3 separate regions of the Homo sapiens genome follow, and all the other regions are linked to region 2. The links come from fine-mapping of genetic effects on gene expression. A gene starts in region 2. Each other region holds a variant in brackets. All regions are shown on one strand. Distances are between the middles of the regions.

Evidence for each region. PIP is the estimated chance that this variant, and not a neighbour inherited with it, causes the effect.
Region 1: its variant is fine-mapped to the expression of STK35 in whole blood (INTERVAL, PIP above 0.99).
Region 3: its variant is fine-mapped to the expression of STK35 in whole blood (TOPMed, PIP above 0.99). The same link has a PIP of 0.9 or more in esophagus mucosa.

The regions. Positions count from the first base shown.
Region 1 is chr20:2,158,454-2,168,701 of GRCh38, forward strand. No RefSeq gene overlaps it. Among named protein-coding and RNA genes, the nearest start is that of LINC03086, 43 kb to the right of the region's middle. RefSeq lists an enhancer at 4,601-5,101. The variant G/A (reference allele first, on the strand shown) is at 4,133.
Region 2 is chr20:2,096,486-2,106,733 of GRCh38, forward strand. It overlaps STK35 (serine/threonine kinase 35), which reads left to right and starts at 5,342. Exons shown (of 4, transcript NM_080836.4): 1 at 5,342-5,690; 2 at 6,283-6,880. The coding sequence starts at 5,397. RefSeq lists silencers at 5,228-5,417, 5,518-5,807, 5,818-5,867, 6,158-6,687, 6,708-6,757 and an enhancer at 6,103-7,071.
Region 3 is chr20:2,136,822-2,147,069 of GRCh38, forward strand. STK35 (serine/threonine kinase 35) reads left to right here. Exons shown (of 4, transcript NM_080836.4): 4 at 6,963-10,248. LOC124900458 (a long non-coding RNA gene) reads left to right here. Exons shown (of 2, transcript XR_007067499.1): 2 at 1-4,777. Among named protein-coding and RNA genes, the nearest start is that of STK35, 40 kb to the left of the region's middle. RefSeq lists an enhancer at 8,876-9,539. The variant G/T (reference allele first, on the strand shown) is at 5,249.

The DNA of each region.
Region 1 (10,248 bases), 62 kb after region 2:
GGCTGAGGCAGGAGAGTCGCTTGAACCCAGGAGGCGGAGGTTGCAGTGAGCCGAGATAGTGCCACTGCACTCCAGCTTGAAGACAGAGCAAGACTCCATCTCAAAAAAAAAAAAAAAAACCTAAAAACTTCTGCATTTCAAGGGACACTGTTAAAAGAATAAACAGACAAAACAGACTGGGAGAAAATCTTTACAAAGCATGTATTTAATAAAGAATTTGTATCAAGAATATAAAGAACTGTCAAAATTGAATAATAATAAAACACCCCCGCAAGCTGGCAAAAGATTTGAATAGACATGTCACCAGAGACCATAAGCATGGCAAACTGCACATAAAAAGATGCTCAACATCATTTGCCATCAAGGAAAATTAAATTGAAAAGTTTTAAATTTAAATTTAATTGTTTTATACTTAAGTTGTAAACATTTTAAATTTAAATTTAAAGATCAAATTAGGCCGGGCACAGTGCCTCACGCCTGTAATCCCAGCACTTTGGGAGGCCGAGATGGGTGGATCACCTGAGGGCAGGAATTGCAGACAAGCCTGGCCAACATGGTAAAACCCCGCCTCTACTAAAAATACAAAAATTAGCTGGGCGTGGTGGCATGCACCTGTAAACCCAGCTACCCAGGAGGCTGAGGCAGGAGAATTGCTGGAACCTGGCAGGCAGAGGTTTCAGTGAGCCGAGATCACACCACTGCACTCTAGCCTGGGTGACAGAGCAAGACTCCGTCTCAAAAAAAAAAAAAAAAAAAAATCAAATTAAATCTCCAATAAGGTGCTACTTGCTACACACCTATGTTGGTAAGTAGGAGGAAGAACTGGAACTCTTATGCCCTGTTGGTAGGATGGAAAATGGTATTACCACTTTTGAAACACTTCAGCAATTTCTTAAAAATTAACCATAAACTCCAGCCATTTCACTTCCAGGTACTTACTCAAAAGAAAAGGAAATCCATGTTCATGCAAAGACTTAGATAAGTACATCTTTATTTATAATAGCCCCAAACTGGAAACAACCCATCTGTCCATCTGCATATCAATGCATGGATAAAAGAATTGTGGTATATCCACACAGCCAAATGCTACTCAAGAACACAAAGGAAAACTAGGCATACATGCAGTAACATGGGTGAGTCTCAAAGTAACAATGCTGAGGGAGAGGAACTAGACACAAAGAGTATGATTTTATTTACATAAAACGCTAAAAAATGCAAACCAATCTATAGTAACTGAAAGCAAGTCAGTGGTTCCTTCAAGATGGTGAAGGGCTGCAGGGGAATATGACAAAGATACCCGAGGAGGGCCGGGGGCAGTGGCTCACGCCTGTAATCCCAGCACTTGGGGAGGCCGAGGCCTGTGGATCCCTTGAGGCCAGGAGTTTGAGACCAGCATGACCAACCAACATGGTGAAACCCCATCTCTACTAAAAATACAAAAATTAGCGGGGCGTGGTGGCAGGCGCCTGTAGTCCCAGCTACTAGGGAGGCTGAGGCATGAAAATCAGTTGAACCCAGGAAGCGGAGGTTGCAGTGAGCTGAGATCGCACCACTGCACTCCAGCCTGGGCAACAGAGTGACAGTCTGTCTCAAAACAAAACAAAAAACCAAAGATACCTGAGGAGAATTAGTTGTGACGGGTGTGTTCACTCCCTGGAATACGGTGACGATTTCATGCGTGTACACATATGTCAAAACTTATTAAGTCGTATATTAAAATATGGGCAATTCATTGTGTGTCAACTATACCTCAATCAAATTGTTTTTAAAAAGTAGGAAGGACATAAGAGTTCACCTGAAGGGGCCCCTACCTGGAGGCCAAACTTGGAACAATTTGAGCGTCAAATAAGAACAGTGATGATAATGGATTTACAACACATCGAACAATAATAATAGTTTTTTAATCTGTGTATGATGATACTACGAAAGCAGGGGAGAGGGAAGGGAGAGGAAAGCTTTACAGAAGAACATAGAAAGGATAATGGGAAAAATCTCTATTTGCAGCTACTAATGCAATAATTGATTCAGGCAAGGCATCAATAGCTGCTAAAATCACTATGTGAAAATTCGTGAGGAAACAGGTACTCACATATCTCAAATATCATAATTCATCACACAGATGAATTACTATGTACAAAAGGAAAGATTAGCTTTATAATGGAGAGATCTTCGGGAACACATTAGTCAAATGATCACACCTTAGCATTACCAATGATGAGACAAACTGGCAGGAGGCCCCTCCTTATATAACACAATGGGAGACACAGCCTCCCCTCTGCAGATCTCGTGCCCAGAATGCTTAGCCAAGTCTAATCACAAGGAAACAATCAGACACACCCAAATTGAGGAACATTCTACAAGACACCTGGGCTGTCTCTTTTACAAATGTCAATGTCATGAAAGGAAAAAAAAGGTGGGGGCGATGGTACAGTGGGGACTATTCATTCCAGATTAGACCCTAAAGGAATGTAACAACCAAAGGAAGTGCCTGATCCTTGATGGAATCCCGTACTGAAAAGAATAAAAGTAAAACTGCTATAAAGGACATTATCGAGACATTTGGGGAACTAGAATATGAGCTGTATGAGGACAGCCTTGTAACAATGTTAAACATTTTGGTTATTCTGGTATTTAGTTAGTATTTTTGTTGTGTGGGAGAATGCCGCTTGTTGTAGTATTCTGCTTGATACACGGATGCATGCCCAAGTTTTTAGGGGTGAAGCTTTATGATATCTCTCTCGCTCTCTCCCACCCTGCCCTACCCCAGCCACATACCTGCCTACCAAGAGAACAGCACAAATGTGGCAAAATGCTAACTAGGGAGGCTTGGCGAAGGGTGTAAGGGTATTCATTGCATGATTCTTTTAATTTCTCTGTAGTACAAAAATATTCAAATTAAAAGCTAGAGGGCAGGCTGGGCGTGGCAGCTCACGCCTGTAATCCCAACACTTTGGGAGTCCGAGGCAGGTGGATCATTTGAGATCTGGAGTTCAAGACCAGCCTGGCCAACATGGTGAAACCCCATCTCTACTATAAAAAAAAAAAAAACAAAAATTAGCCGGGCATGGTGGCAGACATCTATAATCCCAGCTACTCAAGAGGCTGTGGCAGGAGAATCATTTGAACCCAGGAGGCGGAGGCTACAATGAGCTGAGATCGTGCCTCTGCACTCCAGCCTGGGTGACAGAGTGAGACATCATTTAAATAAATAAATAAAAGCTGGAGGGGAAAGGTAGGGGTGGCTGGTCCAGAAGGGTCCTTCCAGCTCCAAGAGTCAGCTACCAGCTCTGACCTTTGATTGCCAGTACCTGGGCCCCTCCTGCCCACCTGGCAGCATCTTCCTTCTCCCAGCAGCCATGGTGCTGTCCATCCTGCCGGACCTGGACCACTGGGAGCAGGAGGTCACCTCCTCCTGCCCATAGCTCAGAATGAAAGCATAGGTGAGTTGCAGAGGAGGGAGCAAATATGGAGAAGTAATAGATGGGCAGGCTGCAGATGGGAGGGAGCATGGCCTCAGGAGGTAGGGGACCCCCAGATCTGTTTGTAGATGAGAGACCCACAGCTGCCACTCTGTGCATGTTGATAGGACCAGACTTGCCCTCAGGTCTGCTGGCTGGAAGCCTGCAGTGGTGTCCATCCCTCCGAGTCCTCACCATGCATACATCCTCTACTCTCCTCTCCCCTCACTCACGCCGTTCCAGCCTCCCCACACCCCCACCCTGCCCTGAGCTGCTGTGTTATGGCAAGGACACACAGGCCTGCCCCAGGGCCCCTGCACTTGTTCACTCTCCTGCACTGCTTCCCCCTGCCCCTGCCCTGATGTCTGCCCAGCCACACCCTCGCCTCTGTCTTCCTTGCTGGCTTTGTTTTTGTTTTTCTCCAGAGGACACATCACCATGTGACATCCCACCTGCGTGTCATGCTTCTTGTCTGTCTCTCCCCCCACATGCCAGGGGCATCATTTTTATCCACTGTGTTCGCTGCCATATCCCCAGCATCTAGTAGGGTGCAGGGTACATGGTAGATGCTCAGTAAAGAGTTTGTGAGTGAATGACTCCAAAGCCAGGTTTCTGCTTTCCCTTGGACAGTGGTGTCTGTGTGTGAATGTGTGTGTGTGTGTGTGTGTGCGCGC[G/A]CGTGCACGTGTGTCAGTTGGGCAGGTTGGAGGGTGTCCAGCCAGCTGGGTCATTCCTCTGGGACTCATTTCCTGGGGTGCAGGCAGAGTTCTCAGAGGGCTGTGAGGACGCCACTTGCAGCATCAACACATTACATAATCTGGCACTGGACAGCGGTGAGGGGCAGGCAAAGCCTTTATTCTGTGTTTGCCCAGAGAAACTTCCCCAGGTCATGTCCTAAGCTGCCAGCTCTTCAGCTTTGTGCTCTCTAATTGCCCTGACAGATCCCACCACCCATTCACCCGGCCCACTGGCTCTGAAAGAAGACTGCATGGGTGACGCTCGGAGCTTGGGAGGAGCCCAGGCCCTGGTATGTTCTGGATGCTGTTGCCTGGGGCCTGAGCCCCACCCAGGCAGTGATGACCCTGCGAGGCCGAGCCTCTCCATCCTCCCGTCTGTACACGCGCAGGGCTCCAGGTGCTCCCTCTGGTGCCGCCTCGCTGCCTTCTGAGCTTTCCTGAGCTTGGACTCATGGCCTGAGCTGCCCCTGTGGGCACAACCGGATGCCTCCTCCTACCCACAGAGTGGCTCAGGTAGCTCATCCTCTGTCCACCTGGGACTAGCACTGTCACTGACCTCTCAGAGTTATGGGGACACGGTGCATGTCAGGAGTCCAGCTCCTTCTCAAAGGTCAGTGAGTGACAGCTATTGTTGTAGTCACAGTCCCTGAGGGTCCACAGTGAGCAAGGCCATGCCAGCTCCCGGGGCTTCAGAATCAGCCATCCCTCCAGTCCCTGCTTTGTTGGCACATGGAGCCCGGTACAGGGAGATACATATACATAAACAAACGTATACGTATACATCAGGCAGGGAGAGCTTTGAAGAGAGAAGTCAGGTCATGGGATATGGAGGGCCAGGCCGTCAGGGCAGCTTCCCTGCAGAGGTGACAGCTGAGCAGAGGCCTGACTGGAGTTGGGGTGAGCCAGGCGGTGGCTGGGAGGGGGAGCAGCAGGTTCAGAAGCCCTGAGTGGAGGGTTGGGGGCGTCTAGGCCAGGCTGGCTGCAGCAGAGGAAGCAAGGGGAAGAAGGGAAGTCGGAGGTGTCAGATCAGGGGCTTTGCAGTCCTTTGCATGGTCCCTGGTTTTCCTCCAAGTAGGGAGGGGTACTTTTGAGGGTTTTGAGCAGAGTGGCAGGATCTGGCTTCCATTTTCAAAGGGTCCCTTGGCTTCTATATTAGGAATAAATTGGGATGGAGATGGCTGAAGAAGCAGGCAGATGGGCCAGGAGGAGCCCCATGAACTCGGAAGGGCTGGAGGTTCTTGGGCCAGGCTGTCAGGGTGGAGACGTGAGAAGTGGCCAGAGCCTGGAGAGCTCTGGGAGTGGCCAACAGGTTGGCCATGACAATAGAATCTAGGCAGTCCTACTCCAGAGCCTCACCCTCCACTTGCTGCCCCCTGAGCCCAGACGGGACTGTGGAAAGGTCAAGGCCTAAGGAGCATAAGAAGTGACTGACAAACGTTAGCTCCCTCATCCTGGGGAGGAGGGGAGAATGGAGTGTCAGGAGCACAGCTGTTGACTCTTAACACCTTCTTTGTGTCATGCCCTGATGTACCGGTTACACTTCTAATCTCCACAGCACCCCCTGAAACTGCACACTGTGGTCCTCATTTTAAATAGAGAGGAACTGAGGCTCGATGAGTGGGGAATGACTTGAACCAAGGGCTGCTGGCTCAGTCGAGGCACCAGCATGAGGGTCGTCCTTCCCTTTCTCAGAGACCTCCTTTATAAAGAGGCTGTGGTTGAGGCCAGGGCTCACCTCCACCCCATCAGCATCTCAAACTGTTTTCTCTAGAGTCACATAGCACTTTCCTCTGAGAAGAGGGGCGCCCATCACGGTTTTCCCTACCCTATTGCAGGGCCAGTGACATCTCCACGCCTTTTACCCATCTGTGCCTTCCTGCTTCCCCCAAATGTGCCCATACCTCCACCCACCTGTCCAAGGGTGCCTCAGCTCAATAGGTGAAAGGTGGAGCTAACCTCCTCTCCCATCTGCACCCTCCATCATACTCCTCCTCCTGTCCCCTGGGGACAAGGACGCATATGCTTCTCCCAGCCCTTGGCAGGTACTAGCAACTCACTGCGGGCATCTGCTCTAGGAGCTAGGCACAATGGGTAACCCCATTGTACAGATGAGAAAAGCAAAGCACACGGATGTTAACCCACTTGCCTGAAGTCAGCCAGCAGGTGACTGGCGGAGCTGGGATTTGAACCTAGGCAGTCCTGCTCCAGAGCCTGACCCTTCACTCGCTGCCCACTGAGCCCAGATGGGACTGAGGGGAGGTGGAGGCCCAAGGTGCATAAGAAGTGCTTGACAAATGTTAGCTCCCTCGTCCTGGCCTTCAGACAAAATACTGCAGCCTGGAAAGCCTCACTGTGACACGATTGCATGCTGCTAGGTGTGTTGTTACTGCTCCTATTCTACCGATGAGAAAACCAGTGCTGCTGGAACATCAGCCAATTCCCCACAATGAGGAGGAGGGAACCTGAGCCCGACGCGGAAGCAGCAGACCCAGATGAAGGGAGTCCCTTCAGTGTCTTTCCTATGTGACCATCAAGCACGCGCCAGGGAGGCGTCAACCCGGTCGACTGCAGTCCAGGCGTGGGAGGGAAAGCCAAGTCCGAGGCCTATTTTACACTTTTGAGTTTTCCTCTGGATGAAAAAAGCAGTTCATTAGTGAGATGGCCACTGCGTCCTGCGCCTGAAACGTCGGTAGCAGAGGTAATTGGGGGCCTCTGTCTGGCCTCTCAGTCCTTGAGAATTTTCAGGTAGATTTTAGCCGGGAGCACTGAATTCTACTTACAATGTAAAATGCGTCTGTGAAGTGTTTTCTCTGAAGTGGGAGTAGGTAATTGATTTTTTAAAGAAAGCCACCTTTTGGATTCCGGAAAACACTTTCAGGTCCGTCTCTTATTTTTCAGCACATAAAGGCAATTATCCCAGGTCAGCACTTCCCACAGGAAATGGGACTCTAATTTTGCACAACAAATGTTTCACTGTTGCATTTTCCTTATTGCAAGAGAGATTGTTGTCCCAGCTTGTTTCACATCAGAGTGAGAAAAACCAAGCCCTGCCTTAAACAGTGGCTGAGGTTAGAGATTCCACAGGGTTTCGAAAGCCCTCTGTGTCCAACTCACCATGTGTTGCTGGCAGAGCCGCTTTCCTGCTCCGTGCCTTAGTTTCCCCATTTGTACAGTAGTGATCAGCACAGCACCACCTCTAATAATTCCCAGCAGTGGTACATGGTAAAAATGGTCACGCGATCCCTTTCCTCTCTCTATGCCCTTTGGAAATCTCTTCCTACCCCGACAATGGTCATGGCCACATGACTTGCTTTGGCCAATGGTGACAATAACAAACATAATGCAAGCTGAGGCTTGGAAGCACCGCCGCTCTTTGGAACGCTGAGACCACCATGAATGAGCCTGAGCTAGCCTGTTGGAGGGTGAGAGGCCACATGAGACAGCAGTGAGCCCTCCCGGCTGCGCCAGACAGATGCCTGAGGCCATCCTAGATGAGCTGGTCTAGACCGGAAGATCCATGGAATCGTTAGAAATAATTGCTTATTGTTTTTGTTTGTTTGTTTGAAAGGGAGTCTCACTCTGTTGCCTAGGCTTAAGTACAGTGGTGCCATCTCAGCCCATTGAAACCTCTGCCTCCTGGGTTCAAGAGATTCTCCTGCCTCAGCCTCCCAAGTAGCAGGGATTACAGGCACCCGCCACCACACCCGGCTAATTTTTGTATTTTTAGTAGAGACTAGGTTTCACCATGTTGGCCAGTCTGGTCTTGAACTCCTGACCTCAGGTGATCTGCCCACCTGGGCCTCCCAAAGTGCTAGGATTACAGGCGTGAGCCACCGCACCTGGTCTGCTTATTGTTTTAATCCATTAAACTTAGGGGATGTTTCGTTGCACAATAGGAGCTGACACGTCCCCTCTTGTTCTTGTACCTGTTAGAATCTTTGGTTCTTGGAAGAATGGAGAATTTATTGGGAGATTATTAGGGAACACAGAATTGAGGCAAAGGCTGGAGAGGCAGGCTTGGAATCAGGCAGGAACCAGAAGAGAAGTTACCTGATTGTCAGGACCCCAACTATGGGATTAGCATCTCCACTAATTCTCCCACCCTTCATCATTCCACTCAGACGATAACGTCCCATATGGCGAGATGGTGAGGTCACACATCTCACTTCGGCTGTATGAGTGCAGTGAGAGGCAGGACCTAAGGAAAATGCACTCACAAGGGAGCAAAAAGGCCTGGCACCCCCAGAGCCAGTCGATCTCGGTTCAAATCCCAGTCTGCTACCTGCTAGCAAGTTTCCATTTCTCTGAGCCTTGCTTTTTCCCTGAAAGAGAGCTGGGAGCTGCATCTGTGTCTGGGCGTAAGGTTATGGTAAAGATTCAATGAAATATCTATGTAAAGTGCTTAGAACATTAGTACCTGGCATTCAGAAAACATTCAATAAATGTTAGTGTTATTGTTATTATTTATTATTATTAATTTATTCTGCAGGGGAGGGGAGAACTATAATTTATTTTGGGAGATGTAGCAAATCCCTAAGACTCCACAGGATGTGGAAATCAGGGTACTGTTAGGAAGGGGAGTAGGATACTGGGTGACTAAAGATGACAACTGTCCCCTCTAGCGGTGTTATGAGGCTCCACCTTCATCATTCCTTTCCTGCGCACCTACTGTGTGCCAAGCCTAGTGCAGGCGAGGCAGAGACAGGTGTCAACAAGAGGGACTTGGTCCCTGCTCCCCTGGAGCTTGCCTTCTAGTTGGGGAGAGGCTGGCGATGAATAAGTGAATCAATAAATCACATGGTCATTTCTGAGTGCACCAAGTCCAAGATGCATGAGAAAAAAAGGGACGAGATGCTACTTAGGGAGTGGAATGGGGATGAAAGAAGTCTCATGATGCCGGTTTAAAAGGAGTGATTCAGCATTTAGTAGCTGCTGCACAGTCCCTATCGAGGAGCTGGCAGCACGTAAGTCCTCTGGACGTGTTGTTTCCAATCCCCAAGATGGGGAGCAATGGGAACCCATGGTGGAGAGTGGAGGGGTCAGGGATCCTGGCTCCCAGTTCTTTTTTTTTTTTTTTTTTTTTTTGAGATGGAGTCTCACTCTGTCACTAGGCTGGAGTGCCCTGGCACCATCTCAGCTCACTGCAACCTCCGCCTCCTGGGTTCAAGCAATTCTCCTGTCTCAGCCTCCTGAGTAGCTGGGACTACAGGTGCATGCCACCGTGCCCAGCTAATTTGTGTATTTTTAGTAGAAACGGGGTTTCATCATGTTGGCCAGGATGGTCTCCATCTCCTGACCTCATGATCCACCCGCCTCGGCCTCCCAAAGTGCTGGGATTACAGGCGTGAGCCACCGCGCCCAGCCGGCTCCCAGTTCTTATTGTGCATCTTGGGCAAGTCGCTTCCCCTCTGTGAGCCTGATTTTTCACGTTGATGCAATTAAGGCACCGAATGGATCATCAATTTCCCCAAAACACTTTAGCCTTTCTTTTTTTCCTTGTGAGACCCAAATAAAATAGATGAAGATGAGGAGGGCATACCAGAGTGTCACTTGCGAGATCAGCGTCTCTTTTACCTTCCCTCCGAGGCCCTGAGACACTTCTGCAGACACCTGAGCCTCCAAGGAGTCCCGCCTGGAAATCACAAGGGTACATAAAGGATGCTACAGTCATCTTGGAATAGACAGACCTGGCTGGAATCCTAGCTTTGCCCCTTACTTGCTGCATGACCGTGAGTCAGTCCCTTGACCTCTCTGAGCTGTCTGCATCACCTTGCCAGTGGGGATTGGAATTAGGAGATCAGATCTATGTTCAACAGCCCATGTTGTACCACTGATTTGCTCTGTGTCTTGCTGAGCCCCTCCCCTTCTCTGGGCCCCAAACCTGGTGACAGATTGGGATTTCCAGCCTCTCCTGGATCATCTCTAAAAGGGGCATGGCAGGCCGGGCGCGGTGGCTCACGCCTGTAATCCCAGCACTTTGGGAGGCCGAGGCAGGCAGATCACGAGGTCAGGAGATCAAGACCATCCTGGCTAACACGGTGAAATCCTGTCTCTAC
Region 2 (10,248 bases):
ACACACACACACAAAATTAGCCAGGTGTGGTGGCAGGTGTCAGTAATCCCAGCTACTCGGGAGGCTGAGGAGGAGAATCATTTGAATCCAGGAGGTAGAGGTTGCAGGGAGCCGAGATCATGCCACTGCACCCCAGCCTGGACAACAGAGTGAGACTCCATTTAAAAAAACAAACAAAAAACCTCACTGCTGCTCTTCTCTTCTACATTTCTTCTATCACTAAATATTGAGCTCAGTCAGATGTTTGGTACTGTCTGAGGTTCCAGGGATACTGAGGCAGGCATGTTTGTCAACAAGAAAGATGTAGAAGAGGGCTCGCTGTAACGTTTACACTGCTTAGCCTGGGGAGGGGCTGAGTGCGATCAAGAGATGTGGAGTGTCTGGGGCCTCAGTTTGAAACCCAGCTGTGCCAGCTTCACATTCGGTTTCTTCATCTGTAAAATGGGGCTAATGAAAGTCACTACCTCATGGAATTGTCGTAATTCTTTGTTAATCCCTGTGCCTGGCAGACAGAAAACTTTAGTAAATGTTGGCTATTAGTCCTAACAGTAAAGTATAGGTTACTTCCATAAGTTAAGCAAGACAAAAACAAAAACTAAAAATTTGGTCAAGGCATCAAATGATTTATCAAGCAGTCCAGCCCTCTTAACAGCATATAAAAGGATTCACACTCCTTGTGGTCCTCCCAGAACTTCATATTCAATCTCTCTCAAAATTCAGGTGGGGGATACAGCTGGAGGCCATTATCCTAAGCAAATTAACTCAGGAACAGAAAACCAAAAACCAAATACCGCATGTTCTCACTTATATGTGGGAGTAAACAATGGGTGCTCATGGACATAAAGACAGGAGTAGACACTGTGTATTACTAGGGTGGGGAGGGAAGGGCAAGGGTGGAAAAGCTACTGGTTACTATGCTCATTACCTGGACGATGGGCTCAACTGTATCCCAAACCTTAGCATCACACAATATATGCATGTAACAAACCTGCACAGGTACCCCAAAATCTAAAAAAACAAGCTGGAATTATAAAAAGTAAATAGGCCGGGTGCAGTGGCTCATGCCTGTAATCCCAGCACTCTGGGAGGCCAAGGTGGGAGGATGGCTGAGCCAGGAGTTCGAGACCAGCCTGGGCAACATGGTAAAATCCTAGTGGCATGTGCCCACAGTCCCGGCTACTCAGGAGGCTGAGGTGGGAGGATCACTTGAGCCCAGGAGGTCAAGGCTGCAGTGTGCCATGATCATGCCACTGCACTCCAAGCTTGGGCAACAGAGCAAGACCCTCTCTCAAATAGATGGATAAATAGGTAAGATGCCTAAAAACAAAATAAAAACATGTATATGTGTATTAGAAAACAAAACAAAACAAAATCAGATAGGAAAACTAGCCAGGAGGAAAGACACTGCTGGCTGTGCTAAACCTACGAAGCCAGTGATACAGGAATGGGGCCAGGGCCACACAATGCAGCCTTCTGTCCTTAGAAACTTCTAAGTAAAGACACAAGTGTTCGCAGCTACAGGGTTTTGGCTTTTTTTTTTTTTTTTTTATGTTTTAATTCAACTTTGTCGTGGTACAATTTACACACAATAAAATTCCATCACCCAGAAAATTCCCCTGTGGCCCTCAGCAATCAATTCCCACCTGAAAAACAACCACTGATACGATTTCTGCCACTCTAGACTATTGTTGGTTGACTTTATATTAATGGAATTATAGTATGTGTTCTTTTCCAATTTTTTTATAGCTTTATTAAGTTGTAAAACTGATTTACATAAATACACCTAATATAAAGGGTACAATTTGAAGTGTTTTAATATATTCCTATCTTGAAACTATTACTACAGTCTAGATAACCCATCACCCCAAAAAGTTTTATGTCCTTTTGTTTTCTATCCACCCTTCCTACCCCAACTACTGATCTGCTTTCTGTCACTACAAATTAGTTTGTATTGTTAAGAATTGTATATAGAATCATCTAGCAGGTACTCTCTTGTGCCTGGCCTCTTTCACTCAGCATAATTATTTTGATTCATACATGCTGTTGTATCAATACTTTATTCCTCCCCCCATCAACACACCCTCAGCAACATTTCATTGTATGGGAATACCACAATTTGTTTATCCATTCATTTATTGCTGAACACTGCAGCATTTTCCAGTTTGGAATTCTTATGGGAAAAGCCACTGTGAATTCCTATACAAGTTGCTTTATTAACAGAAGTTTTCATTTACCTGAGACCCATGGAATTGCTGGGCCACAGGGTAGACATATATTTAACTTTATAAGAAACTGCCAAACTGGTTTTTTTTTTTTTTCCCAAAGTGGTTGTACCATTTTAAAATCTTACCACATGGCTGGTTTCACAAGCTTGTATCCATCTCATGGCTTTTGTACTTGTTCTTCTTTCTTCTTGGAATGACTTCCCATTCGGTTTCAGAGCTGGGTTCTTGACATTCAGGTTTCAATTCAAATGTCAAATGCCAAAGAGGCTATTATGGACTGAATTGTGTCCCTCCTCACTCCAAATTCATGTTGAAGTTATAATTCCCAGTACCTTAGAATGTGCCTATATTTGAAGATAAGGTCTTTAAAGAGGTAATTAAGATAAAATAAGGCTGTCGGAATGAAGGACAAAAACCATACTATCATTTCAATTGATGCTGAAAAAGCATTTGATAAAATTCAACATGGTTTCATGATAAAAACCCTAAAAAAAACTGGGAATAGAAGGAAAATACCCCCACATAATAAAAGCCATATATGACAAACCCACAGCTAGTACCATACTGAATGGGGAAAAACTGAAAGCCTTTAAGATCTGGAATACAACAAGGATGCCCACTTTCACCACTGTTATTCAACACAGTACTAGAAGTACTAGAAGTACTAGCTAGAGCAATCAGGCAAGAGAAAGAAATAAAGGGCATCCAAATAGGAAAGGAAAAAGTTAAATTATCCTTGTTTGCATATTATATCTTATATTTGGAAAAACCTAAAGACTCCACCAAAAAACTGTTAGAACTGATAAACAAATTCCGTACAGTTGCAGGATACAAAATCAACATACAAAAATCAGTAGCATTTCTATATGTTAACAGTGAACAATCTGAAAAAGAAATTTAAAAAGTAATCCCATTTACAATAGCCATAAATAAAAATACCTAGGAATTAATTTAAAGAAATGAAAGATCTCTATAATGAAAACTATAAAACACTGATTAAAGAAATTGAAGAGGACACACAAAAAATGGAAAGATATTTCATGTTCATGGATAGGAAGAATCAACATTGGTTAAAATGTCCATACTACCCAAAGCAATCTAAAGAGTCAATGCAATCCCTATCAAAATACCAATGACATTCTTCACAGAAATAGAAAAAAGGTTATGGTTAAAAAGACCTTCTGATCACCATTTTGCAACTGTAATAATTGTTTCAAGCAAGAATCACCATGAATTCTGAAACCAGTGGGTAAGAGTCTAAAGAAGAGGATATTTAAATAGTCTCAAAATATCTTCCCACAGAATACTTAATAGTTACAGAAGGAAAAATCGTAACTTTATGGTAGAGTGTAACTACTCCTACACCACCTCAACCAAATGATGGAAGTTAACACCACGAATACTGGGACAAACACAATGCCATGTGCCTCCTGATGAAAGGCCCTGAGGAGGCAACTTTTTTCAGCAGTAGTCCTGCCAAAAAATGCATACCCTCTCAGAATAGCAAGGGATGGGTTGGTGGGGGGTGGGGGAGGAGAGAAAAATGGATACTCTGAAACTAATAAGAAAACACAGATGAATAAAAATTTAGGGACATTCTACAATATAACTCGCCAGTATTCTTCAAAAATGTCAAGGTCATGAAAGACAAAGAAAGGCTGGATAACTAACTGCCCTTCCAGATTAAAAGAAACTAAAGAGGCATGACAACTCAGTGCAACGTCTGATCCTGAATTGGATCCTGGGGAATAGCTATAAAGGACATTATTGGGACCATTAGCAAAATTTAAATATGGATGGAGTGTATTAAATAAAACAATTGTATCATTGTTAAAATTCCTGATTTTTGACCACTGTACTGAGATTATGCCAGATAATGTCTTTTTTTTAAGGAAACACACACATATATTTAGGATAAAGGAGTTTGATGTTGGAAACTCTAAAATGATGTAGTAAAAAAGAATATATACATTATATATGTGTGTGTGTGAATATCTATATACCGTATACTGATTTCCTTTCTTTTGGGGTATATACCATATAGATATCCACACACAATATGTATTTGTGTGTATATATACACATACACGAGAGGATATGGATATGCAGCAAAATATAACAATTTGTTATTCTAGTGGAAAAGTATATGATCTTTACGATTCTTGAAATTTATGTGTAAATTTGAAATTTAATCACAAAAAAGTTAAGAGGTTTTCAGCGACCAAATACATTATAAGAAATGGCCTGTATCCAGTGAGCACTCTTTAGCTCATTCTTTTTCTCCATCACACTTACCACTGGCAAAAATTATCCTGTGCATTTATTTAATAATACTTAACATTGTGTGCAAGGCTGTCCTAAGTGCTTTACCTGTATAACCTCTGTGGATCTTCTTACAGGTAAGGAACAAATACACAAGAAGGTTGACTAACTTGCCCAAGGCCACCCATGTGGTTTGTCTCCTGCAGTGGCACAGAACCTCAACCAAGGCAGAAACTGCCTTGTCTATTGCTCTTTCCCCAGCGACTTGGAATGGTGCCTAGCACATTACGGGTGTTCAATAAACATCTGTAGATTCAGTTAACAAACACTGGGCACCCACTAGGCCTACACTGGAATACAAAATACAGAACAAAATATTCAAAAATCTGTGCCTAAATGGGAGCTTTGGGTACTAACAGCCCCACACCCAATTAGCCTCCATCTAGGTATTTCATTTGGGTCTATCATTCCTGGGAATTAAAGCCCATTCTATCCATTTTGCAGAGGATCATTAGATAAACGGATGCTCAGGGTGGGTCAATGATTTGCACAAGATCACTGGGCTGGTAGAAGGGAAGGTCGGGATTCCAACCCAGTCCCTGAGGTTCCCAGGACAGAGCTATGAATCAAACGACCAAGACAATCACCCAGTCAGTATTTATTAGGCGCCTACTGCGGACGGTTGGTCTTCACGCAGATCAGGCGAGAAGGGATAGTGATGCGCGGGCCGCTGCGGAGACCCGGAGCCCGCCGCGGATCACGGGAATTTCGCGCCTATTTTTTGTTGGCTGGGTGTTCTCGCCAGTGATTGGGTCCCGGCAAGGCGTGCCGGTGCGCTCGGCTGCGGCTGCTCCGTCGACCTTTGCAGGACCGGGCGGTGCAGGGCTCACTCGGCTGGCGTCCCGGGGGATGGGCCACCAGGAGTCTCCGCTGGCCCGGGCGCCGGCGGGAGGTGCAGCTTATGTAAAGAGGTTATGTAAAGGGCTCAGCTGGCGCGAACACGTGGAAAGCCACGGGAGCCTAGGAGCCCAGGCTTCCCCAGCGAGCGCCGCGGCAGCAGAAGGATCCGCTACACGCCGGGCTCGGGCCGCCACCTCCCGCGCTGCTCGGTCCCGGAGGCAGCCCGGGCCCGGAGCGGACCATCCCCAGGCAGGGGCTCCAGGGGGGAAACGGGCCGCCCGGAAGTGGAGGTGCGCGGGCCAGGTAAGGGCGCCGTTGGAGGACTGAAGGCCAGCGCCGAGGCTGGAGTTACTGCCACTGCCTCCGCGCTTGGGAAGGGAAATCGGGTCCTCGGCCAGTCGCACTCCGAGAAGCCGAACTTTTCAGCCAATCCCTTCTACCCGTCGCCCTCGGGGACTTGGGTCGGTCCGCTGGGCTCCGCTAGGGCTTAATTCAATGGACTGTTTACACCCGGGCGAACACAAGGCGGGGCGCGGGGAGGAGCGTCACAGAGGGGGCCAAGCAAAGAAAAATATTTCCGCCGGCCAAATCGCGTCTCTAAGCGGTTTTCAGAAGGCGTGAAGCTTGCTGGCTCTTCTTTTTCCTATCGCTACATGACAAGCTAACAGAGAGAGCGGAGAGTTTGTGCTTTTCTTTCCGGTTCCCCCTCTGAGCTGCTGCCCAGTGGTTCGGTCTTTCCCGCTTTCCCCTCCCCTCCCCCGTTCAATCAGCGGCGGTGGCTTCCGTCTTAAAGGGGCCGCGGCGGCCGGGGGAGGAGGAGGTGGGACGCCCCGCGGCCTACGCTCCTGGCCTCCCCGCCTTGGCCTGGCCGTTTAACCGATTCTTTCGCCCGCAGGTCACAATCCAAGGTCCGGCTCCTCCGCGTCCCAGGGCCGGACGGAGGGATGAGGCAGGGGGGGCCCGGGCAGCGCCGTTGCTGCTCCCCCCGCCGCCCGCAGCCATGGAAACGGGGAAGGACGGCGCCCGCAGAGGTACACAAAGCCCGGAGCGGAAAAGGCGAAGCCCAGTGCCGCGGGCGCCCAGCACGAAGCTGAGGCCGGCGGCGGCGGCCCGGGCCATGGATCCGGTGGCGGCCGAGGCCCCGGGCGAGGCCTTCCTGGCGCGGCGACGGCCTGAGGGCGGTGGCGGGTCCGCGCGGCCGCGTTACAGCCTGTTGGCGGAGATCGGGCGCGGCAGCTACGGCGTGGTTTATGAGGCAGTGGCCGGGCGCAGCGGGGCCCGGGTGGCGGTCAAGAAGATCCGCTGCGACGCCCCCGAGAACGTGGAGCTGGCGCTGGCTGAATTCTGGGCCCTCACCAGCCTCAAGCGGCGCCACCAGAACGTCGTGCAGTTTGAGGAGTGCGTCCTGCAGCGCAATGGGTTAGCCCAGCGCATGAGTCACGGCAACAAGAGCTCGCAGCTTTACCTGCGCCTGGTGGAGACCTCGCTGAAAGGTAGGAGCACCGCGGGCCTTTCCACCCACGCAGGGCCTGGACCCCCTGCTCTCCGGACGGCTTGGCCCACACTGTTCCTGGCCTTCCTAGGCCTCAGACCTGGTCCCTGTCACCCTGTGCCCTGACACACCCTCCTTTCCTGGGCCCAGGCATTCGGCCCTCTCTTCTCAGGTCCTAAGATCAGTCCCTGGGCCTAAAGTTGGCTGGTGTTTCCATAACAAGAGCTCGTTTAAGTGCTAACCATTAACTTAATAAGTGCTCAAGAATTGCGAGCTATGGTTATTAAACGTCTTCTATTTTTAAGATCGGTTGGGGGAGTGGAGGAGGGGTCGGGTTCAGTTAGTAGCAGAACTGCGGAGCCTCCTCACCCCCGAGGGCCTCTCTCTTTCCCTCCCAAAACAAACAAAAAGAAAAAACTTGACTGGACCCACCCACACCCTCTCCCTGTCTGGTTCCAAGTTTCCTGACACCCTCCAGCTCCAACCCCCAAACTCCTGTGGCTTCCTCGTCTGCCTTTTCCTCTGAGGCCCCCGGCCCTTCATCCCAGGCAGCCGAGCAAACTGACTGTCTTCTGGCTTGGTCCTCTGAGGGGTGCAGGCTGACAACCCTCACAGGTGGCCTGAGAGCTGTCACATAACAAAGCATCCGGCATCTTTTCCCTCCGTTTTACATTCTTAATCTTTTTCTTAACCTCAGAGGCTGGCTGGGAAGTGGTTTTACTTAAAAGGAAAATGGGGTACATTGAGGCAAGAGGTCTTGCAGTCCTGGAGGAACTAATTATCTTAGTTTCCGGGTTTTAACTGCAGTTAGGGAATGTATTCATCCTAACTACTCAGTACTCACAAGCCTTTTTCATACTACCAGTAGCTAAGTGTCTGCTTGGAGAGGAGAGAGGCGGTAGAAAGTTTGAGGAGACTTTCCGAGGCAGGAGGATCCAGGGGAAGAAAGTTTACTAATCCGAGTCCCAGCTGTGGTCTCAGTGCTGAAGTAATTTTTAGGTAATAACTTCAAAAGTAAATTCTATCCTTTTTCTATAAATAAACTAAGGCTTAGAAGTGAACAAATAACTTGATCAGGGTTAATCCGCTTGAAAGGGAAGTTAGACTGTACTCCTGGTTTCCTTACATTTCTCAGAGCTTAAGTGACGGGGATCCCAGATCTGTCTTGATTCGAGGCCTGGATCCTTTCGAAGGCGTAATGCTGTTCTCTGCACCCTGAGGATGAACTTTTTTAAGAGTGGGTAGGATTTGGGGTGAGTTTGGAGGGGGTGGTTTCCCAAAATCTTGTTACTTTTGCACAACTTAAAGATCCCCCAAGTCTTTCCCAAGAGAACGCTTTGTCCCATTGCAAGTCAGTTGTTTGACAGTGGAGTTGGAAACATGAATCAGTATCACCTAGAGTCCTTTAATTAGATGTCTAACTTTATAAAGTCCATCCGTGCCCCATCCATTCTGAGAAGCCTACCCTCTCCCCAGGGTGAGTGTTTTTGTTTTGAAAAGACTTCCAGCAGGGCACAATGGCTCACGACTGTAATCCCAGCACTTTGGGAGGCTGAGGTGGGAGGATGGCTTGAGCCCAGGAGTTTGGGAACAGCCTGGGCAACAAAGTGAGACCCTGGTCTCCACAAAAAATAGAAAAAAAAATAGCCGGACCTGATGGCACAGGCTTATAGTCCCAGCTACTTGAGAGGCAGAGGCAGGAGGATCAGTTGAGCCTGGGAGGTTGAGGCTACAGTGAGCCATTATCATGCAATGGCACTATAACCTGGGCGACTGAGCAAGACCCTGTCTCAAAAAAAAAAAAAAAAGACTCCCTAGGGGATTCGTTTATCTTACCTATATTCTAGGAGCGCATCACTTACTTTGAAGTCTTTCTATTCTCAGACTTCTCTTAGTCTTCTCCTTTACTGCCAATGAATGGTCTGGACTTCCTACTACAGGATTGCCTTGGGATGTAGGAATTTGCCTTGCCGAATGTTTATTCCTTGTGTCCTCAGTTCATTGACGCCAGTCTCGAACCTTCAACCTCAGCTTGAAGCTCTTGCTTACTCTCTCAACATATAAATACTATGTGGACTTTCCTCACCTGAAGAATTTGTCAAAATTCCAAAGTGACCCCATGGCAGCATAGCATAGTGGTTAGTACCATGGACTTTGGGGTTAGACCCTCTGGCTCATCCCAGGACTGACTGCACAAAACATGGAGCAAATTGTTTGAACCCTGTGAGGAGCATTCCTTTATTGTAAGATAGTGGGTATGTACCTATGACATTAGGTACATAGGGTCACTGTGCAAACTGTTAATGTCAGCAAGTGCTCCACATAGGGAGGAATTCACTGCCTTATATAAGTTCACACCATGTTCTGTACTCTTCTACCCTCACCCCCTTCAAGATTCACATTGTTCTTGCTCAAGTTTCCCAAACTTGTTTCATCATAGAACACACCTTGTTTTCTGTGTTGTCAGGCACACCAAGTTGACAGAAACACTGGTGTTTTCATCCTCCCTTTGTGAACTAAAACTGGGACCTAGAAAAATGAAATCTTTTGCTTTAGGCCGTACACTGGATTGGATTGGTCCCTTTCAGTTGTTTGGAGTCTTTAAAATATTTGAACCTCTACGGTGTTCAGGGCTCAGAGACAGAGCAGTGAAGAAAATATGTGTTGTTTCTGCTTATGAAAATGACATTCAAGCTGACTTGCAATGTGTGGATTTTTCAAGTAGTAAATAGGTAATCATTTTTGCTTCTTAAAATAGAGAACAGATACCAAAATTACTCCAGGTTAAACTTTGCTTATTCTGGATTCCAAAATTTAGGGGTCTTGATCTGTCCTGGGGCCTTGGGTTTACAGCATGCAAATACCACCCAGTAATGTTAAAGCTGGAAGGAATCGTAGAGATAACCTGGTTCAGCTCTCTCATTAAATAGAAAAGTCCTTTACAGTCACCCTTGGCCCTGCCTCCTAAAACTCAGAATGATTTTGAACAGGCCAAAAAGTGTGAATCTGCCTTGAAGTCTCAACTAAACCTAATGCTGAGTCCCTACTGTGGTATTTGAAGGGAAAGAAAAAAAGCAAAGCAAAACACACCACCCCTTGCCCCAATGGAACTTACATTTGAAAAGTTTGAGAACTGGAAGAAGATTTAAATGCTATTCAAGATCACTGGAGGAAATGACCAGTCAACTCATAAGCAAGGGCTTTGCACAAGAATTAAGAGGAAAGAGAATCAGGAGTTAGGGAGAAGGTGGGCTTGAAAGTAGGGTGCCTAGGACTGTGGATAGGCGAAGAGACAAAGGGAGTCCGTTTCACTATTTGGCCAGTAAAATAATCCAGTATCGAAAAGAGAAATGTCTTGAAATGCTGTTC
Region 3 (10,248 bases), 40 kb after region 2:
GGCTAGTGGGATCTGAGGTCGTCCATGCCTTTTCACTGGGCAGGGGGACAGAAGAGTTCCCATAGAGACTGGGCCCTCTGGGAGTGTTTCCTGGGGAAGGCGTGTGGATGGGAACCCAAAGGGTGAATGCGATCTGAGTGACAGATAGGGGGTGGGAGTTGGGGTAGCCAGATCAGCAGGAGCTGAAGACCCAAAGCAGGAGGGAGGCTGTCACCTCAAGAGAAGATCAACTTGAGGCCAAGGCATCTTTTCTGGAATTTTTGCCCTGGCAAGTGACTGCAGTGAGGTTTTATGGGTTTGGTTTTGTGTTTTTTTGGATGTGATTTGCAGCCACTGTTGTAGCTTATTAAAGTACCTCCTGTGCACCTCACTCCACCTGCTATGTGTACTATCACTGGTCTTTGTACCCGGCAAAGTAGACATTTCCTCATTTTAGGCTGAGCAAACTGAGGCTCGGGGGACCCTGACTTGGTGAAGGTCAGCTGGGATGTAAATTTTGGATCTTCCTACTCCAAAGCCCATGCCTTGAGAGAACACCACCTCCAAGCCACGCTCCTCTGCATTTGGGGCCTGCCCCTGGATATCTGCCTGTGGGTGAGCTGCCTTGGTTTGGTCTCCTGGTCAGGGCTCAGATGTCGTAAGGCGTGGACCTGTGGTCTTCTGGGTTGTCATGGAGCACTGCGAAGCTCCTGTTGTATATGTTGTATAATCTCTGCCCTCTTGCTCCTCTTTTTCCTAACATTTTGCCCGTTCTGTATACCCGAAGACTGAAAACAGTGTTATCCCATTTGTCAGTACTCCCATTCCTTCGACCCTGACAACAGGCACGTTCACAGCACAGTCATCCCTGTTTTTGCCCTACTTTAAGCACCACAGTTGGGAGTGCAGCCTTAGAGGAATGATGCATCAGGAAGCGTGACTCCCTGGCCTTGGTGCCTCTGAGTGATTGGAGGAGACATTCGTGCTGGGGCCACCGAACCCCCAGGGCTGGCATGTTGATGTCTGAATGTGAAAAGCCAGATGCTTTGGTGTATTAAACAAGTGAAGAATGACTAACCCCACTTAGAGGAAGGAGAGGACTGCCGTCTGTGACCCTGACAGATGACTTTGCCTCTGTGCACTTGTGAGGCCTGCTTGCTCCACAGCACGATATGCTGAAAATTAATAACCTGAGCCTCAGTTTGCTCATCTGTAAAATGAGGATAATTCTTACATGGTCCTTTGGACAAATGAGGTGTTGCATATTCAGTTTGCACGGCAGCTAGCATGTCATAGGTATCATTAGCTACAGTGATAATGCCACTACACAGGACTGCGGGTGAATTTAGGTAGGAGTGAATTCTTGGCTAGCCACCCAATAATACCCCACTTTGAGTTTATACTGTACCTTAGTCTATGAGTATGCCAATGGGATGACTTTCTTTTCTATTAACTAAATCTGAGAGTCAGGATAGAAAGAGAAAATTGGGCTTTGGGTTTGAAGTCCCAGTCTGTGATACCCTAAGAACCAAAATGACCATTAACATGAATGACAGCAAGATCGATCTTACTGAATGCCCCACCCTGGGTCAGGTGCCATGACAGGCAATTTACTTGAAGAATTCTTCACTCTTCACAGCAGGCCCCTGAAGAGGAAAGAGTTCCATGCCCATTTTCTAGTTTAGGAGAAGGAGATCATGGAAGTAGCTAGTAAATGGCAGAGCTTGCATTTGAACCAGGACTGTCTGCCATAGAGCCTGTGTTCTTCCCTGAGGGAGCACTGGAGTGACGATAAACCTCGTGGTTACCAGACTTCCACATTTCCTAAGATGGTGCAATTTTAAAAACTGGGGAGGCAGGTCCAGGAGGGAAGCAATTTTTAAAACCATTCCTACTTACTTTCATCATCATTTCATCAAAGAAATGATGTTTTAGGCCAGGCATGGTAGCTCATGCCTGTAATAATCCCAGCACTTTGGGAGACCAAGGCAGGAGGATTGCATGAGCGAAGCCAGGAGTTTGAGACCAGCCTGGGCCACATAATGAGACCCCGTCCCTACAAAAATAAAAATTAAATCTAGCCAGGTGTAGTGGCATGTACCTATAATCCCAGCTGCTCAGGAGGCTGAGGCAGGAGGGTTGTTGAGCCCAGGAATTTAATGCTGCAGTGAGCTATGGTTGTGCCACTGTACTCCAGCTTGGGTGACAGAGTGAGACCCTGTGTCTTAGAAAAGAAAGCAAAAGGTAATGACATTTTGACACTAATAAAGTAGGAAGGCCATCCTTTTAGAGTAAGGGATAATCACCAAGGTATTCTGTGCCTGCAGGCTGAGGAGTAGGGGAAGGAGGTGAACACGTGAGCCATCCTTGTCTCCAGCCCCATCCTGCTGTGCATGTTCCCCTCATATCTCCCAGGCTTCTGTTCTCCAAGCTGCTAATGGCCTTCATGAAAGTAGTTCAGTTTCTCAGTCTTCTTAAACAGACCAGACACCTGCCTGACTGGCAGAGAAGCTTGCTGGAAGACCGTTCACTGCCTGGTTGGCACCATGTCCCCTTTTGTCCCCCGAGCACTAGACCTGTGCACAGGCACGTAAGCCTTCCATGAGCCTTTTTTCTGAGTGAGTCTATTTATAAATGAAGGGATTAGATGGGTTTTAAACTCCACTTAAGACTCTTCTTGTCTTCTCTAGGAAGGGATTTTGCATCGTTACATGTCAAAAGCAGGGGATTTGGAGTGAGACTGCCCTGAGTTAAACCCTTTTCTCTACCACTTACTGTCTATGAGGCTGTTCTCTCTGAGCTTCAGTTTTCTCATCTCTAAGACGAGGGGGACGATAACCCCTACCTCTTAGGGTTGCTGGGGTGAAATGAGGCAATGGATGTAAAACACTCGATCCTTTAACAGTGATTGGAAAGCAGTGTTGCTTTACGAGGTTGTTGCCTATAACACAGTTAGAACTTGCACAGACAGACTGCTCAATAAGTGATTGCTGTTACGCCAGTTACAGAGAAATAAGAAGGTGGGGTGCACTGAGAGAACTTGGTCCAAGAGCTGAAATGAGAAAGGTAAGGATTCATAGCACATTTTCCCAGATCACTGACACCTTCCACCCCCAAGGTCATCTCAGGTGCAAGCTACTGGAACCATTGCTGAGCCGGCTTTGGAAGCACTGATTGAAGACTATCATAGTGCAGAGACTTTGGGTAGTAAAGCTGGAAAACTTTGGATTAAGTGCTGGTTCTACTGCTCAGCAACTCTGGTGTGGGGCAAGTTGCTCCATTTCTCTGGGCCTGTTTTCTTGTGAAAACTGGCCAAATCCCTCCTCACAGTAATCATGGAAGGGCACTACAGATGTCAGTTGCAGGTTTATCACATCACCACTTTTCATTATGCTTAGCAGGTGTGATTTTTGCCCTCAAGGAGCGGGCTCTGGTCAGAGGTAGGGGTTCCACAGAGAGGAATGAGAAGAGCCCCGGTAGAAGCTGGTAGCCAGGCAGTCAGGCACAGCCTGAGCAGTCAGGGAGCTGAGATGTGGCATCTGCTAGGATGAAGCACCACAAGCCTAAGGCCTCCCCAAGGGCCCACTGGGGCTGAGACCTACACCCTTTATTGTGCCCACAAGTACCTGGGAGGGTCTGTGCTTAAACTCAGAACCATGTGGTCTGAGCCATTCCTGTTCATAGCTACAGAAAGCGCCTCCACTACCTTCGGTGAGCTTACTGTGCTGTTAGCTCCCTGGGAAAAATGCTCTTTCTGTGATGGCAGATGGGAAAAGAACCCCAAGCCAAGATCCTCTCCCCAGTAGAGAGCCCTCTTATTTTCCTTCTTTGTGCCCACAAGAGAGAACCAGACTCAGACCTGTAGGCTGTTCTGAGGCTTCCAACAGGAGGGCCAGAGCCAGTGCCAGAGCTAGAGGGAGCAGGGAGGAGCCTTTGGGAAATGTCAGCTTCACTTCCTGGCATGGGACCCAGTGATTACAGCGGTCATTACAAGCTGGTGTCTCAGGAGTTCTTGCAGAGTGCTGTGCTGTTGGTCTGACCTTCTGTAGTCACACTGTGTTCTGCTAGTTTATTATGTAAAAAGGAACCTCTGGTTTCTGAACCTGCCTCCTTGCCAACACTGCTTTTCAGCTGCCACATGCTACCTTCCTGCTGATGGGCATCCTTTTCAGGAGATTGTCCGCAGGGAGGGAGGAAAGGAATGCTGGAAAGTCATAACTGGTCCCAAAGATTATTTTAGCACATCACATGTGGCTGTATAATTTCTCATCGTATTTCACAAGGTCTTAATGTCTCAGATGGTGAGGGCCTACCCTAAATACCCTCTTCCCCCATCTTCAGGTTGATCTGCTGTGTCTACGGAAAGCACGGAGAGAAAGCAATAGGCATGCTAAATAGAGCTAGAGTTTGAGATGGCTGCTGAATCATCAGGGAATATGTTTATGATGATTTTCTTTTTCCAAGTCAAAAACTGGGATACAAGACCCACAAGTGGATTTTTTTGAGGGGAATTAACAGACCAAGGAACAGAAGCAGCAGAGTGAAAGACTGGGCCCGAGAAATCCTGTATTTTCTTTCCAGATCAGCCACACCCACTTTCTTGGTCACCCGCTCCCTGGGCAGTAGAGCAGGGAGTCACATAGTCTAACCTCCCGTTTGGCAGTGTGGAAGCTCTCCTTTGTCCACTGGGCATGGAAGAGTCCAGACAAGACCCCACATCTGGACCTTTCTATTGGAGCTGCCAGCTTTTCTTGTTCATTAAAGTACCCTATTTTTCCTATTAAAAACTAAAATATAACATTGGTGTGTGTTCATTATTAAAAATCAGAAGTGAGGGAAGAGGAAAATCCAGTCACAACAAGCACAACATGTTGGTGTATTTATTGTCAGATTTTCCTACACTGAGGGGTTTGTGTTTTTACATAGTTATGGTCATGCTGTGCGCTACACAACTTTGTAACCTACCCTTTTCCACCTACCCCAGGGAAGTGCTTTTGTCATAATCTTCAAAATGTCATGCAATGATCTCATTTCCTCTGTAGTATATCAGTGCGTTGAAGGATCATTTGCTTACTTAATCCTTATTTTTGGACTTGTGAGTTGTTATATTTCAGTGAACTTCTTTATCCATAAAGTTCTTTTCATATTTAGGTTTATCTGTTAAGCTTGGCTTTCAGGAGTAGAATTTCAGGGAGCTACCAATCTAAACACCTTTGAAGCCCTAAAAACAGTGCCAGACTACCTTCCAGAAGCCTTATCCCCTCCTCCA[G/T]CAGTGTGCGGGGCACCCTCACCAGCCAGAAACACTTTCAGTGGTTGCGTGGCTGAGAACCATGGCCTGTTCAGATTTAACACGTTTATAGTCTCTGGTTGGGGACAGTTGGCCAGGAAGGGGTAGAGTCATTGAGTATGTTTGTCCCTGCTGTGGGCCAGGAACCTGAGTCATTCCACCCAGACCTCAACCAAGAGTCCCCAGTGCTCAGAGGGAGAAACTGAGGCCAACAGACAGTAAATTATCCAATATTGTCCTATCCTGCTGCCTCTTGGGAGGACTGGCCAGGTCCCTTCCCAGGAGCTGAGGACAACGAGCTGGTGTTGTCAGCCCGCACAGGTGGCAAGTCATGGCAGCCACGGTGCTGGCTCTGCCTGACAAAGAAAGGCACGCACAGTGAAAGACTTGTCTGCTTTGGTCATTCGGGCACTTTAAAAACTCCTAGATGGGCCAAGGTAGGTGGATCACTTGAGCCCAGGAGTTCAAGACCAGCCTGGACAACATGACAAAACGTCGTCTCTACTAAAAATATAAAAATTAGCCTGGCGTGGTGGCATGTGCCCTGTAGTCACAGCTACTCAGGAGGCTGAGGTGGGAGGATCACTAGAGCACAGGAGTTCAAGGTTGCAGTGAGCTGTGATCAAGGCACTGTACTCCAGCCTGGGTGACAGAGCAAGACCCTGTCTCAAAAAACCTCCTAGATGATTCCATGTGCAACGAGGCTGGAGCACTGTTGCCCTAGATGGCCCGCCCTGCCCAGGACAGCGCTATACTTAGCACTGATCCGATAGCTCAGAGTGGGCGCTGCCCAAGACTAATCTCTGTGGGCCCTTGTATTCTAGGCCTCCAGTAGAATAAGCCACTGAAGGGCAGGCTTCTTGTCTTATTCCTGAGGCCTGGCACTAAGGCAGTTTCCAAATAATAGCCAACACTAATAGGATCAGGCACTCTTCTTGGTTTTACGTTCATTTAATCTTCATAATAGCCTGTGACGCAGGTACAGGTGATGAGACCAGGGAACAGAGGACTTAAATTCCCCCACAGTCGAGGGGCAGCTCCTGTTTACTCAGTTGCCCGTTCTGGCTCCAGAGCCCTCGTTCTTAACCCCCACAGTGCACTGCAGCAGACAGTGCAGGCCCAGTCCAGCCCTGCCCCTGGGTGTGGGATTCTGGCCCATGTTAAGACCTGAGCAGGTAGCCTGGTTCGGATTCTCAGAGGCCTGAGCTTCACTCTTCTCTTCTGTAAAACAGGATTACTGAACCTAGAGAGGGTTGCTGTGGCGTTTCTAACAAACAGCACAATTAATCACAGAGAGTGGGGAAGAAAGCATGAGTGGAAGCAGTGCTGGCAAGGTCTGTGGGGACAGACTATCCAGGGTGGGCCCTGCGGTGTCTTGCTCCTAATAGTACGGGGAAGCCAGGGTTCAAGATTGGTTTGACAGCTAGAGCCAGCAAGCTTGGGTTCCCAGCTAGTGTCTGCCCCTTAGTCAGTGTGCCCTTGGGTAAGTTACTTAACCTGAGCCTCAGTTTCCCTATCTGAAAAATAAGCATGTGTGAATAAGACCAGGGAGGTTGTGAAGCTAGATTTACCCCATCTCTTTAGAGCTCTGCCCCACAGCCCCCAGCACACACAGCTTCAGTGTTCCTCTGGGTTGAGGGCTGGTGCCCAGGCCTGCTGACCAATGTCCCCTCCTTACCCGCCTTCTGTCTTCCAGGTCGATTCCTCGGGACCCACAGTCTCACCACGTCTCCTCCAGAGGACGGCAGAGGGTACAGGTGGTGGCCTGGCCGGTTGGCGATCTCCCGACAGCTGGATCCGGCAATGTGAAGCTTTTGTTTGGGTTTCCCCGCTTCTTTTTAGTTTTGCTTTATTTTTTTCCTTTTCTTTTCTTTTTTTTTTTTCCTCTTTCCTTTTTTTAAATTTAAACCATTGAGACTTCAGAAGAGCAGGACACAATGCTGTGGACAGGCACCAATTTCTTTAAAGAAATTCAATGTGGGCAAGGCATATGTGTAAATTTCACTTTTACTTTTTATAAGGGGTTAGGGAGCTATTTTTGGTTTTGTCCTTCACTTTCCCTCTGTCTTCCTTCTTTATACTTTTCTCAGTTCTACTTATGACACCTCACTTCCCTAGAGAAGGCCTGCCTCCCCATAGGGAATCTGGGGGTTTCTTCTGGAACGGGGCGTGAGGACACAAGGAGGCCTCTGGGCCACGCCTCCCTACCAGATGCAGGAACTCCTGGACTCCTTGGTGGGCTGGCCCTGGCTAGCCCTTGGGCCTCGGAGATGATCAGAGGTGAAGAACCGCCTGGAAGAGGAAGGCCAGGGTTTGGCCAGGAGAACTAAGAAGGTCTCAACTCCAGGCTTTGTTGTGTTTAAGCTATTGAGAGCCCCAGGCCACACCAGGACTTGCAGTGGTGGGAATCCATTCCTCTTCTGCCCTGTGTTGCAGGGAACTAGGAGGTAAGGGTGGAGGGCGACCATCTCGCTCTTGCTGGCGGTGGAGCAGCCATCCCTGCCTTTCTGTTGGGAAAAACTGTTGTGCCAAACTCTTGTGTGGAACACAGCTGGGTCTTCAGCAGGCATCTGTCACTGCCGTGAGGTCAGCGCTTCTCACCTAACTGCCTCCTGGATTGTCATCTTCCCAGATGTGTCCCATAGTGTCCAGGTGTCACAGAGACGGCCTGAGGCCCTAAGATCTGGTTGTGACTTTGCCATGATAACAGGGTGTCCTGAACTGGCTGCCGTTGTCGTGTTCTCACAGTGAAGGGCGTGCCCTGTGTGCCGGGGTCCATGGTGTCATATGCAGTGACACACACTGTCAAGCGCCATTTCCCTCACCCCTGGAGACTTACTGTTAGGTGCCTGCCCTCAGTATAGACGTATCCAATGGGAAAACAGCGGACCTGCCCAGAGCAGGGAGGTGTCGTGGAACTGGGTAGACCCCCTGCAGCGTTAGGGGCCCATTTGTGGGCTCGCCACCTTCAGGCTTCCCCAGCCATGACACTTCAGCCCCGCCACCCATGCCTGTCTGCTGCAGCCATCCTTGCACTCTCCAGCGACACTCTCGCACCTCCCTAGGGGAAGCTTCCCTCCCCCTGGGCTGCTGCTCTGAGCCCATCTGTTCTCCCCCTGCAAGAAGGGGCAATGCTCTTGTGTTGTCCCTCTGTCTGGACGCGCCTGGCCACTCCGAAGGCTTTTCACCCCATTATGGCCAAATAGTATAGGGCCACTGGGGAGGGGGAAGGGAATCATTTTGTGTTCATTTTTGTTTTCTGTTTCACCTAAACCAGCATAGGATTGATAGGGGAGACGGTTGGCGGGCATTTCCGTTTCTATGTGACCAAGGCAGCAGGGGCTTTTACCTGCTAAGCGGCAATCCTTTGGCCCTGAGAATTTGGGAGAGAACAGTGCATCAGGCCAGGCTCAGCAATATGTTTGCTCACATTCTTTCAGCCTTCTGTCACCCCCCTCAACACCAAACTTTCTTCCTTGTGAGCAGAAGGTTGGCTGCTGTTAGCAGGATCCCACAGTGATAACCAGGCCCTTCCCTTCCTAAGCCAAAACCCATTGTGACTGCCTGTCTCTCCTGTCTCTGACTTCTCAGGCAGCCTCCTGAGTGCACTGAGTTGTATCCGAGAGGGTGGGAACAGCAGCATCCCCTAATTGCAGTACACGGTTCCTTTTCCGCCCGCCACCCTGCCTTTCCTTGGGGGCAGCTGTCTCTCTGTACATGAGCAAATGGGCAAAAACAGTCCCCAAACCCAGCACCCCCCTCTCCCTGGCTGCAGCCCACACTGTAACATCCCTAGTGAGGCTCCAGCCTAATGAGCCCCTTATTTTCTTTTTTTTCCCTCCCCAGGTCTAGTAGCTCTAACTAAAAAGTTCTTGGAGCCATCGTGCTCCCCCTTTGTTATTTTTCTTGCTATCAGAGTAGCAAGAAACAGCACCCCTGTAGGTGACAGGTGGGCAGCCTGGTAGGGGTCGCCAGCCTCCATGCCCCCTCATCTTCCAGTTCTTGCTTAGTGGCACGACCTCTTTCCATAGCATAAATGCAGGCCAGCGTTTTAGCCCCAAGTGCCTGCCCTTGCTTCTTACCCCTCCCCTGCTTTCTCAAACACTTGCCCACCTCAGGCACTCAGCGGGCTCCGCCGTGGTGAGAGAACTGGCCGTGGCTCAGCCCCGGGTAGCACCTGTAGTTTCAGTGCCACTCTCCACTGTCCCCTTGTGGACCAGCTTCCACTCACTGTCACGTCCCCCCTCCTGCGTCTTCACTGGGTCTCAGGCTGCCAGCAGCTCTCTGGTGCATCGTCTCAACACCACCAAGTTTGTAGGACCTGCCCAAGTTCTAGTAGTATTCAAAACTTCAAACGGCAGTCATTTGTTCTCCTCGGCTCTGTGGCAAGGATAGCCCTTTGGAGGGGGACTCTTGACCTCGGCTGTTAGGGATCTGAACTTGGTTTTCCCGTCAGAAGAATCAGCAGGACAGATCGTAGTGCCTTATTCCATTGTCCTCCCCTGGCCAGGCCTCCTGGCTCAGCTGGAAGTGCATGGCTTCTTTCTCCCTATCTGTGTCCTCTGTCACTTGCTCTTTCACTCTCTCTCTCATTCCCAGAGAGCCACGGGGGAGGGATCACCCTCACCCCCAACACCCTCTTCCTGAGGGCTGTAGCCAGGTCCGCATCTCCCCACCACCACCAGGGCACTCACTCGCAGCTATAGCCCAGGACAGAAAAACTGTGCTTTGGACAGGTGCACACTCTCTGCCTCTTACCTCTAGCCAGGAGGATGCCTCAGTCTGTTCATTCGAGACTGGCCCCGTCTGAACCTTCTCTGGGCACTGGGGACTAAGGTTGCAGGCCTTAGCCTCGTCTCGTCCCAGAGGCATTGGATCAGGAGAATGGGAATTTTTTTCCTCCCACCTGGACATAGTTTGCCCCTGTGGCTGCCTTTCTGAGGGAGTATACTAAATGTTTACTTAAGAAACACCCTGTTTAC